3 separate regions of the Homo sapiens genome follow, and all the other regions are linked to region 2. Evidence: fine-mapped expression QTL. A gene starts in region 2. Each other region holds a variant in brackets. All regions are shown on one strand. Distances are between the middles of the regions.

Region 1 (4,349 bases), 480 kb after region 2:
TTGCTCTGGATGCTAAGAATATCTTCCTTGTGTGGTTGGAGACGGTGGTGGTGGTGTTGATGACTTTAGGCCCATAGAGAAAGAAATGTGCCCCTGGCCCAGCGGTTAGCTGTGCAGTGAGTAACATGTAACAGTGACATGCCCAACTGCCTAGGGGTGTAGAGGCTCCCACTGTTGCAGTTCGAATCCACTGGGCTCCACTTTTACTATAGACTAAGCTGCAAAAGTAAAGGCTGAGGAGGATGGTGTTGTGGGACCTAGAGAGAGTGGATAGCAGAGGCCATCCTACTCCCACCTTCCATGAAGGGGAGTCAAGATGCAGACCAAAGGTATGGTAGTAAATATAGGGGAGTAAGAGCTAATGTAAAGTTTCAGAGAGAATCTGCAGAAGAGTTAAAACACTCCTCTAATGTAAACACAGGGGGAGGAGGGAGAAGGTGCAGAGGGTAGAGGGGACTGGAGGTAATTACAGTTGATGCTTGAACAACATAGGGGTTGGGACCGTTGATCCCCTCCCCCATTGAGTCAAGAATCCACATAAAACTTTTGACTCCTCAAAAATTTAACTACTGATAGCCTGTTGACGAGAAGAAGCCTTGCTGATCACATGAACAGATAATTAACACATCTTTTGTATGTGAGATATATTCTGCATTCTTACAATATGGTAAGCTAGAGAAAAGAAAATGTTATTAAGAAAATAATTATAAGAAAGAATATATTTAGTATTCATTAAGTAGAAGTGGATCATTATAAAGGTGTTCGTTCATTCTCATTGTCTTCATGTTGAGTAGGCTGAGGAGGAGAAGAAAGAGGAGAAGCTGATCTTGCTGTCTCAGGGGTGGCAGAGGCAAGAGAAAATTTACATGGAAGTGGACCCACGCAGTTCAAACCCATGTTGTTCAATGGTCAACGGTATTCATCTTTCATATTAGGAAGCCAGTGTATTTTGTCAAATACTCATAAATCACAAAGTAGGAGGACAAGTATTTTATTAACACTGAAGGGAATAACGACAAAAACAAATTAAAAACAGAAGCGATAAAAAGTTTAGTCCCCTAAAAAAAAAAAAAAAGTTTAATCCCAAGGTGGTAGAACTGGTGTGTGTGGGGGGAATGGGTAAAGAGACATTCTTATCATTAGTTTTTTTTTTTTTTTTTTTTTGGGATTTTTTAACCTTGTTCGTATGTATGATTAGAATTCCTGAATTTTAAAAATAAAACCAACAATCAAATTACTTCCAAAGTCCTTGAACATCATGACTCAATACTCCATAAAATAAACATATTTTACTGGTTTTCTTTTTCTTTTTTTTTTTTTTTTTGAGACAGAGTTTCGCTCTTGTCACTCAGGCTGAAATCTTGGCTCACCGCAACCTCCACCTCCTGGGTTCAAGCGATTCTCCTGCCTCAGCCTCCTGAGTAGCTGAGAGGGATTATAGGCACGCACCACCGCACCCGGCTAATTTTGTATTTTTACATGGAGAGACAGGGTTTCTCCATGTTGGTCAGGCTGGTCTTGAACTCCTGACCTCAGGTGATCTGCCCTCCTCAGCCTCCCAAAGTGCTGGGATTACAGGCGTGAGCCACCACACCCAGCCTTTCTGTTTCATTTTTAAAATCATTTTCACTGGCACTTTCTCAGTTTTACAACTGTCACCAACTGTACACAGAGCATGCATTCTATACCCTAGACATGAAGGGAAAACAAACAAACAATCAAACAAACAAACAGTTTCTAATGCTTACCTAAAGTTACAGTGCCAGCTGATGAGAAGAATAATAACCACCCAGGCCCATCATGTTCAGGCACTTCCAGGTACCAGGACAGATGACTTCGACTCCTTCCTGACTCGTGGCAGCATCCTTACCTAGTCTCAGATCAATGAAACCTGTTCTTGTTTTAAAGGCCTCCCAGCAAGGAGCTCAGCCTGTCTCCTCTCCGGCTGAAGCAGTTCTATTTTTATTCCATGCTGTTTGATGGCTCATGTCCAAGCCAGTGGCTGTGCTCCAGGTGCCAGACTCCCTGGCAGCACCCCTATTATGGGACAAAGCTCTGCCTGGTCCAGGCAGCAACCTGGTCACAGCCTGATCACAGGCTGGTCACAGCCCTGTCACGGACATCTGTGCACACTTCAATCTGCCCGTTGTAGGGACAGCCTGCAGGCCTGCCTGAACCTGGCCAAGCCCTGATAACATGCAGGAACCACATCTGTGAACCATGTCACAGACTGTCAAATTGTCAAACATTTCACACCTACAGTGAATACAAAGAAAGGAAAAACAAGCCCCACTTTTCCCACCACCCAGTTCTCGTACAGGCAGACCTCAAAGATATTGTGGGTTTGGTTCCAGACCACTGCAATAAAGCAAATATCACAATAAAGTGAGTCACACACATTTTTTGGTTTCCCAGTGCATATAAAAGTTATGTTTAAACTATACTGTAGCCTATTAAGTGTGCAATAGCATTCTGTCTATAAAAATAATGTACATACCTTAATTTAAAAATACTTTTTTTGCTAACAAATGCTAACAATCATCTAAGCCTTCAGCAAGTTTTGGTCTTTTTCCTGCTGGAAGGTCTTGATTCAATGTTGATGGTTGCAGACTGATCAGGGTGGTGGTTGCTGAGGTTTGGGTGGCTGTGGCAATTTCTTCAA[A/T]TAAGACAACAATGAAGTTTGCCACACCCAATTGACTAGTCTTTTAGTGATGGACTTCTCTGTAGTGTGCAATGCTGATAGCATTTTACCCACGGTAAAACTTCCTCCAAAATTGGAGTCGGTCCTCTCAAACCCTGGCACTGCTTTATCAACTAAGTTTATGGAATATTCTAAATCCTTTGCTGTCATTTCAACAATGTTCACAGCATCTTCACAAGGAGTAGATTCCATCTCAAGAAACCACTGTTTTTGCTCATCCATAAGAAGCAACTCCTCATTCATTCAAGTTTCATCGGAAAGGAGTCTTTTTTCCTGAGCAGTAGATCTCAAAGTGGGCTTAAAAATATTCAGTAAACCATGCTGTAAATAGACGTGCTGTCATCCAGGCTTTGTTCTTCCATTTCTAGAGCATAGGCAGAGTAGATTTAGTGTATTTTTAATGGTCCCAGGATTTTCCGAATGGTAAATTAGCACTGGCTTTAACTTAAAGTCATCAACTGTGTTAGCCTTTAACAAGAGAGCCAGCCTGTCCTTTAAAGCCAGCCATTGACTTATCTCTAGCTTTGAAAGTCCTAGATGGGATCTTCCTCAAATAGAGTCAGTTTCATTTACATTGAAAATCTGTTGTGTAGTAAAGCCACCTTCATCAATGATCTTGGCTAGATCTTCTGGATAACTTGCTGCAGCTTCTATAGCAGCACTTGCTGCTTCATCTTGCACTTTTATGTTGTGGAGATGCCTTCTTTCTTTTTTCTTTTCTTTTTTTTTAAGATGGAGTTTCATTCTTGTTGCCCAAGGTGGAGTGCAATGGCACGATCTCGGCTCACTGCAACCTCCGCCTCCCAGATTCAAGTGATTCTCCTGCTTCAGCCTTTCAAGTAGCTAGGATTACAGGTGCACGCCACCACGCCCAGCTAATTTTTTGTACTTTTAGTAGAAACAGGGTTTCACCGTGTTAGCTAGGCTGGTCTCAAACTCCTGACCTCAGGTGATCCTCCTGCCTTGGTCTCCCAAAATGCTAGGATTACAGGCATGAGCCACTGCGCCCAGCCTAATACTTTCTTTCTTTAAACCTCATGAATAAACCTCTGCTAGCTTCCAACTTTTCTTTTCTAGCTTTGTAGCTTCTCTTAGCCTTTGTAGAATTGAAAGAAAGTTAGGGACCTTGCTCTGAATTAGGCTTTGACTAAAGGGAATGTTGTGGCTGGTTTGATCTTCTATCCAAGCCACTGAAACTTTCTCCATATCAGCAATAAGCCCATTTCACTTTCGTATCATTCATGCATTCACTGGAGTTAACACTTTTAAGTTCCTTCGAGAACATTTCCTTTGCATTCACAATGTGGCTAACTACTTGGCACAGCCTACCTCACCTTTTGAGACTTCCTCACATGGCTTCCTCACTAGCTTAACTATTTCTAGCTTTTGATTTAAAGTGAGAGACCTGTGACTCTTCCCTTCACTTGAACACTTAGAGGCAATTGTAAGGTTATTAATTGGCCTAATTTCGATATTGTGTCTTAGGGAATAGGGAGGCCTGAGGAGAGGGAGAAAGACAGGGAAAGGCAGGTTGGTGGAGCAGTGAGAACACACACATTTATCAATTAAATTTGCCATCTTATATGGAAGTGGTTCATGGCACTCCAATTACAAGAGTAACATCAAAGATCACTGATCACAGATCACC
Region 2 (4,000 bases):
AATGATACAACTACATTTTACAGAAAAGCAAACAGATCACCTAATAGCTCTGTATCCACAAAGAATCAATAATTAATGAAGTCTCAAAAAAATCACCAGATTCAGATGGTTTCACCAGGGAATTTTACCAAACATTTATGGAAGAATTGATATAGGTTCTTTACAATTTCTTACAGAAAATACAAGTAAATATTACTTCTTAACTCATTTTATGAGGCCAGCATTACCGGCATACCAAAATAAATTAAAGACATTACAAAAAAGAAAACTATAGCCAAATATTTCTCATGAACATAGATGCAAAAGTCTTCAACAAAATATTAGCATATTGAATACAATGGTGTATAAAAACAATTATATACCATGCCCAAGTAGAATTTGACCCAAGTATGCAAGACCGGTTCCTTGAAAATCAATTGAAAATCAATGTAACCCATCATATCAACAAGCTAAAGAAAATAAAATCACATGACCGTATCAATAGATGCAGAAAACGAATTTGGCAAAATCCAACATTCATTCATGATAAAAACTCTGCAAACTAGGAATAGAGAGAACTTCCTAATCTTGATAAAGAAGAACTAAAAAAATCCTACTGCTAACATCATATTTAGTGGTAAGAAACTGGATACTTCCCCTAAATTCAGGACAGGACTGTTAAGAGAATGAAAAGACAAGCTTCCACTGGAAGAAAATACCTGCAAAACACGTATCAGATAAAGTACTTCTATCCAAAATACACAAAGAACTCTTAAAACTCAACCATAAGAAAACAACCTTTTTTTTTTAATGGGCAAAAGATGTGAACAAACATCTCACCAAAGAAGATATACAGGTGCATATGAAAAGTTGCTCCACATAATTTTTCAGTAGAAAATTGAAAATTAACAACGATATAGCACTATATGCCTACTAGAATGTCTAAAATTATAGATGATAGACGGATGGATGGATGGATGGACAGATAGATAGATAAAGATAGCCAATATCAAGTGCTGGTGAGGATGAAGGAAAGGGATTCATATTTGCTGACAGTTATAAAAATGCTATAGCCACTCTAGAAAACTGTTTGGTTCTTATAAAGTTAAACAAATTTACCATAAGATCTAGCAATTGCACTCCTAGATATTTAGTCAACTAATTTAAAAAATTTGTCCGTACAAAACGCTGCATGCAAATGTTTATAGAATGTTTATTCACAGTCGCCAAAAACTGGAAACCACGCAAATATTCTCCAGTGGGTGACTAAACAAAATGTGGTACAAATAATGAGACTCCCCTCAACAATAAAAAGGACTATTACTATACACAATAACATGGATGAATCTCCAAGGTATAATGATGAGGGAATAAAGTCAGTTTCAAAATGTTACATATTGCGTAATTCCATGTATACGACACACTCACAAAGACAAAACCGTAGCAATGGAGAACCTATCAGTGGTTACCAAAAGTTAGGGTTGGCGGGGGCGCTGTTATAAAAGGGCAGAACTAGGGAGCTCTTTATTGCGCTAGTGGTTACATGAATCCAAACAAGGGTTCAAGATCACAGGATTATATATCAAATAACCAATTTTACTGAATATCAATTTTAAAAGTCAAATAAATTATTAAACACTATTAAACATATACAATGTTTAAAGTCAAGCAAAAAGTCCTAAACTAAAAGTAAAATAATGATTGTTTAGAAGTACACCAGGATGGTATGGGTCATCTGCAATATAACGTCCTGTTTGGGATAAGGAAGCGTGACTACATCTACAGGGTGACGTGAGAAGGGCCCAGAGCAGCGAGCAGGTCTTGCCATCAGGGAGGGGAACCATCTGAAGGGGTGGCGTGAAAAAGTCTTTAGAGGAAGGCAAAAAATGGGAAAAGGTCAGAGAACCTTTTTGGGAGGTAAAAGGACCAGCTTTGGATTAGGCGTGATGCACAGGCCCCAGCGCAGGGCGTAGAAACTGCAGCCTGGACAGCCTGGGTGGGAGAAAGTTTGGGATGTTTAGGAAGGAAGGGTGCGCCAGCCAGGGGGAAGAAACGAGACAGGTGGCCGCAGATGGCGCGAGTCAGGCAGCAGGAAAAGGCAGGCTGTTTAAGCAGCCTTTTCCTGCAGTCCAGGCGGAGAGCGCAGAAGGAGCACCCCGAGGGGCAAGCATGGGAGAGCCGGAGCGGGCTCGCGGGCGCGCGGGCGCTGTACGTCCCCTCCTCGGCTCGCGGCCGCGAGCACGCGCTCTCCGTGCCCGGCCCCGGAGGGGCGGGGGCGGGGCACAGGCGCGGCGCGCGCACGTCCGCGCGGGGCGGGGGCGGGGCGCGAACGCGACCGGTGACGTCAGAGGAGGGCGCGCGCCCGGAGGCAGCAGGCGGAGCCGGGAGGCGGGCGTTGTGCGCGGCCGCGGGCGGAGCGGAGGGGCGCGAGGGGCGGAGCGGAGCGCGGGAGGAGGCGGGGGAGGAGAGGCCACCGGGACCGCGAGCGGCAGCTGGGGAGGGGGCCGCGGAGCCCGAGCGGGAGCAAAACAGCTGATCTGGTTTTCCTTTAAAGCGAGAGAAAATGGAAGTCGGGTAGCGGCGACTGCGGCGCTGCGGGCTGGCGGAGCGGAGCGGCGCGGCGCGGCAGGTAAGACGGCGCTGGCCGCGGTGCTGCCGGCGGGCGGCGGGGCCGGGCCCGCGGACCAGGCAGGTGCGCTCTCCGGGCGCGGGGCCGGCGCCGTCTCCTTCCCGAGCTCCGTGGCGAGGCAGGTGGGCGTTGAGGCCGGGCGACCGCGGGGCCGGGGCGCGGGGACGCGGGGGGCGCGGGCCCCGGCTGGGCTCGCCGGCGCGTCTGCATTGCGGGCTCCGCTCCGGACCCCGCGGGCTCCCGGGCCACCGGCTCCGGCCCGGCGTGGCGCGCCTCTCTCGGGCAGGGCGCGGCGCTACCGCTGGGTCGGGGCTGCTGCCTCCGCTCAGCCCTTTGGCTGTCCGCACTGGAACGTGATGCCAGGCGTGGGGCGACCGACCCCTCGGTCCGTGCGCGCGCGTCGGGGGTCCCGCGGCTCTTGCAGACGGCCGGGCAGGGCCCGGCCCCGAGCCGCGCGCGAGGCCGCTCGCCGGGCACCGGAGCTGTGACTGCGTGGGTCCCCGCGGCCCGGCGCACCGCCGTCCCGCTCGCTCTGCTGGGTCTCGCTGGACAGCAGGCAAACCATTAAGGCAATTTGGCTGTGAACCCAGAGGCCTTCCCTAGTATCTCCTCACTGGAGGGGAAAAAATTGCATCTGCGGTGCTTTAAGTGCTCCTTTAAATTTGGGAGATGTCAGTGATGTCATCATTAACTAAAACTTTCCTTCATTGGACACAACCGCTCAAGTGTACCCTCCTCCCTCCCGGTGAAGCTATTGCAGCCCTTTGAGAATCTCTGTAATAAAATGGATTTGCCTCTGCTCTGTAAACTCAGCTACCTCACACAAGTGCAAATGACTTTTATTTCTGTCTATTGGCTTGAGAATGTATAGATTTAAGAGTAGCTGAAGGGAAACTTGTGAGACCCCGATCAGGGAAACGCTTCATCCACAGCACAAGGATCCAGGGGAAAGTCATGTATGACATGCACATGGTTACCGCCAGGTGATACCTTTGTAAATGGAAGTGGGCTGTAAGAGGAACAATTTTTAAAAATATGATGAGGCAGATAATGTGTCCAGGAAAAGGTTGACAGCGGGGCCTAAATCTTTACAGGTCTTAATTGCTTCAGGAAAATCTGCAGGTGTCCTTCACCATCCTCCTCCTCCTCCTCCAGGGTGTGCCCGGAGAAGCCTGCCCTGGGCGAAGGCGGGGAGGCAGGTTCACTAGGGTCCTCCCAGCAGCCGTGTGTCCCACCAGCTTCAAAGGCCTCTTCAAGACCCAAAGAGGGTTCACGAGAACAGAGGTAGATCTGCACGGCACACTCAGTTCTGGATAAACATTCCCCACTAAATGGGATCAACACTCCATTATTTTATTGTGAGTGTGCCATTAGTACCAATTCTTATGGGAA
Region 3 (4,349 bases), 370 kb after region 2:
ACATTCATTCACAGATGCATCATCTGTGGCCGTTTTTGCACTACAGTGGTAGAGAGAGGAGCAGCCACAGACACCAAGGCCTGCAGCGCCTAAAATATTTACTTACTAATTAGCTATTTATGGGAAGAGTTTGCTCACCCCTGCTCCAGGGTAAGCTTTTAACTCAAAAGGTCAACATTTCCTTTCAAAGCATTGCAGCTGAGTTTCCTCTAAGCAGCCATTTCAGTGCTGCTGATGTTGGGCCAGCCCACAGGCTGTGCACTGCACAATTCCAGGGCACCAGTCAATGTCTTTACTGGGGAAATAGGGGGATTTTGTTTGGAACAATTGCTGTTTTCTCATGTTAGCTACTGATGGATGTGTGACCAGCTGAGTGGAGAGGAAACCCCTTCCTGTTGTCATTCTTGTTTGTAGTATAGGCAGAGACTCACTCCCCCAGGGGACAGACGGACAGGCAAGACCAACTATTTCAGAGTCCCTGCCATTAGGTATGGTCCCAGAGAATGGGAAGTGCCCTGTCCAGGGCCAACAGGGGGAAGGAAGCTCAGGGGTGTCTGCTTCTGACCTTTTCCACTGAGTGTGCAGCTCAGGAAGTAAATATAGCAACAAGATTGCACCCCTAGGACTCCCAAATGCTACTCCTTCCTGTAGACAGCTGGGAAGGAAAGGACACAGACAAATGAACAGAACCCAGCCTCCCCCAGCCCTCCGCCAGAGGCGGCACCAGCGTGTCACTTCCTGGCCTGGCAGTTGAGTCGGGAATGAGGCTGGGGCTGTGGAGCAGAAGCTGAAGGTGAGAAATGCACAGGGCATTTGAGACCCCTTCCCAAGAGCAGATGCAGAGCTCCCAGGAGCTGACATGCGTGGTGCAGCCGCAGAACCCAAGTCACAGGAAGAGAGACGACTGGAGGCTACAGCCGGCCGTGACAAGAATGTCACATCATGGTTCTTTATTATTTGCAGATGTGGCACTGGCCACAGAAGGAAAGATTTAATCAGTAAGGCCTCGGAGGTGCTCCGGTCTTTCCATTGTCTCCCCACTTTCAATCCGGAATGCGGAATGCCTGCACCTCCTTCCCGGGGATTTAGCTCTTCGTAGGGCTGACCCCGCCTCTTGGGAGACCAGAAGGGCCTTTTCAGGACCTGGGATCGGCCAGGGGCGGGGCCCTCTGTCCAGTCCCCAGGGAGATTCTGTGGTCAGAAGGTGATGGTCCCAAGGCCAGCGTCTCCCAGTTCCGAGCATGGGGTTCAGATACCCGACCCCCTCCTCGCAAAAGGCACCGAGTACTCTTCCAGGCCTTCCAGATACTGCTGCTTGGTGTTTTCAAGGCACATATGAAAGCATCCTCCCTTCAAAGGATGCCCATGGAGGGCGCTGTGGCTTGGGACCTTTCAGGAGGGCCTTGCAGAGTTGTGGGTGGTTTCACTTCTGATGACCTGGTTTCTAAAAACTGGGATCTGGTCCCAGTGCACCTCTCAGAGCCACTGTGGTGTGGGTCTTTGGCTCCCTCACAGTCAAAGCAGCCCACTGGGATCCTCCTGGGGCGATGCAGGTCCCTGCCTCTAAGACCATCCTGTGGCCAGGCTGCACATTCACCCATAAGGTCCCCACGACCCACTGCAGGGCAGGTGCCATGGCCACGCTCTTTGTCACCTGCACCCTTGTGCCCCCTTAGACCTTCACCTCTGCAGCCTTCCCTCTGTGCCTCAAAGGACACTGTGGGGACGGGACAGAGTCCCAGCTGTGCTCTCAAGTCACACGACATCTCAGCAGAGAGGGACGTGGAAATCACAGTGAGGCTGCAGCTTCCAGGATGAGCTGCAGACTCAGGCCTGCTGGAGTGAGCTGGCCAGACCGCAAAGTCGCAGGACCTGGTGGGAGGCAGGAGATGGGAGACTCCAGAATATCGAGCCCCAGGATGCCACCGGCCCCCACTGTGAAGCACAGGTGTCACCCTCTGCCATGGTACCCTGTCCGTCCTATAAACAGCACCCTGTGACAGAGGCTAATAGATACAATAATCACA[A/G]GCCCCAGGAAGAGCAGACACCGCATCCTTGTGCCTGCGGAACGATGCTTTGAGAGCCTGGAAATGAGATAAAAAATGTATTTCAGGCTGAGACAAGGCTCCCTTCTTCCCACCACCCACTTCCTCCTCCTCTGTTTACATGCCCCATCATGTCTCATCCACATGTGTCCAGCTCCTGGAGGCTTAAAAATCCATGAAGCATTCTTTAAACTTCTCATCGAGTGCCTCTCCCTCTAAGGGAAGCCCCCTCTTATAGGTGCTACTGCCGTGGCCCGGCTACTGCTGATGCCGCCACTGACCATCTTCAAGTTCAGGAATCCTCCCATTTCCCAGGCTAGGCATGCAACATGGGGAGAGGGAAGGGCTTGAGGTGGAAGGTCAGGAGCTGGTGGGACTGGTCAGCTATGGGCAACCTCAGTGGCCCAGGCTTTGCAAATTTATCTTAGGACTTTTTAGATAAAATGTATGCATTCTTTCTTGGTAGCTTCCACACATGATGGTCACCTGCTTTCTCCTGGGGAGGACATTAGTCATTTGCTCCCTGACAACCTGAGCCTTGGGCCTTCAGCTTTTTGCAGGAAGCAGCCTCCTTGCAGCCACATCTTAAAATGGCCTGCAGGGGAGCTCTGTGAAACCCAGATCTGGGCATTCTCTCAGCACCCAGCTCAGGTCAGTTCCTACTGGCCACTGAGCAAATGTGTACATTATGAAAAATCAAATCAATTAACAGGAGAAGCAGAGGTGCCGCATAGTTCCTGGAAACATAGAACCTAGGAAAGAACTTTGGAATCATCCAGTGCAACAATCCCAACTCCCCTCCTTTTATAGCAAACATTGTCCAGTGTACTCTTCATTACCCTGAAATGAAATTCATGGATAATGTTACCTGTGTTGGAATAAAGTCCATTTAGTACCCCCACATCAGGAGAAATCAAAGGAAACCAATGTAATAAAATAATCTGCATTTCTGTAAATATTCTCACACAGCCATACTGCAAAACTCAATGAAGCAATCAGATCCTGGCACCCATATGTGGGGTGCCCAGTTACACAGAGAGGGGACACAGGTGTGCTGAGCATACCCTCAAATACCCCAGGAGGCTCTACAGTCCAAAATGGCAGCTAACTCTTGGTAAAGTCCCAAACAAGCCAAGCACAGCCTTGCCCATCTCCACAGCTCCTCTTCCCTTTGGGTGGATATAGAGCCGTGCAGAGCATACCCATGTGTACATGTTAGCTCTCGGCCTGGCCAGCAGGTTGCACTGGGAAGGGCTGGGTGCATACAGGTGCTGCCTAGGTCTGCACCCCACCTTCATGCTCATATATTTGCAGGTGCTTCCTGTGCTCAAGGGCTGTTCTAGGTCCTTTCCAGGAATACCTATTTAACCCTTCCCATTTCCTCTTCCCCACTTTACAGAGGGGGAAATTGAGAAAGGAGGAACCATCCCCAGGGAATAGTTGCAGCCAGTGAAGGGTTGGGAGGGTGGATGGCGAGGCTTCCACAAAGACTTGGCCCAAGAGAGTGGCATCTCCAAGAGAAGAGGCTCAGGAAGTGGTACCCCAAGTCAAAGCCTGCTTGGGATAAGATAGCGTCTCAGACCCAGGACTCAGGAACCTTCAGGGTCGAAGAGGGTAGGGAGGGGGTGCTTTGTTTCATGGAAGGTGTCAATGCCATCTGTGGCTATTCTTTTCTTAAAAATTAATATTTATTGGCCAGGCACAGTGGCTCACACCTGTAATCTCAGCACTTTGGGAGGCCGAGGTGGGTGGGTTGCCTGAGCTCAGGAGTTCAAGACCAGTCTGGGCAACATGGTGAAACCCCATCTCTACTAAAATATAAAAAATTATCTGGGCATGGCAGCATGTGCCTGTAATCCCAGCTACTCAGGAGGCTGTGACAGGAGAATCTCTTGAACCTGGGAGGTGGAGGTTGCAGTGAGCCAAGCTTGCGTCACTGCACTCCAACCTGGATGACAGAGTGAGACTTCATCTCAAAAAAAAAAAAATTAACATATAAGTCAATTATTTAAATAGTTTTTCCCTCATATATACAAACAGCCTGTGAGCCTCTGAGGCATATCCAGGGGCCACACAGAGGTCAGGGCACCCTCAGTGTGTCCTCAGTGCCTTCCCCCAAGGGTCCCACTTAAGGAACCTAGAGAGCAGCACACAGGAGCCCTGAGGGAGTCCACTGGTTACAGATGGAGGGGGAGATGCTGGTGTGAACAGAGAGCTCTGAAACGGCTGCAGACTGCAAGGATCGAGGCTTACAGATGATCACACCAAGGTTGGCCATCCCTTTATTGGGAACAGAGACTCAAC

Direction of the effects. Positions count from the first base shown, and alleles are read on the strand shown. Sizes are in standard deviations (SD) of each study's normalised expression. Not every link is listed here.
For the expression in lung of the gene that starts at base 2,442 in region 2, A is the high allele of the variant in region 3 and G is the other (small effect, 0.20 SD a copy in GTEx).

What was found. PIP is the estimated chance that this variant, and not a neighbour inherited with it, causes the effect. A credible set is the group of variants that fine-mapping cannot tell apart.
Region 1: its variant is the best candidate, but not a certain one, in a credible set for the expression of OTUD7A in whole blood (TOPMed, PIP 0.56).
Region 3: its variant is the best candidate, but not a certain one, in a credible set for the expression of OTUD7A in lung (GTEx, PIP 0.65).

The regions. Positions count from the first base shown.
Region 1 is chr15:31,385,581-31,389,929 of GRCh38, reverse strand. It overlaps a transcript of KLF13 not described here. Among named protein-coding and RNA genes, the nearest start is that of KLF13, 61 kb to the right of the region's middle. The variant A/T (reference allele first, on the strand shown) is at 2,663.
Region 2 is chr15:31,869,115-31,873,114 of GRCh38, reverse strand. It overlaps OTUD7A (OTU deubiquitinase 7A), which reads left to right and starts at 2,442. Exons shown (of 13, transcript NM_001382637.1): 1 at 2,442-2,608. RefSeq lists a silencer at 2,410-2,479.
Region 3 is chr15:31,496,939-31,501,287 of GRCh38, reverse strand. All of the region lies in intron 10 of OTUD7A (OTU deubiquitinase 7A), which reads left to right. Among named protein-coding and RNA genes, the nearest start is that of KLF13, 170 kb to the right of the region's middle. The variant A/G (reference allele first, on the strand shown) is at 2,028.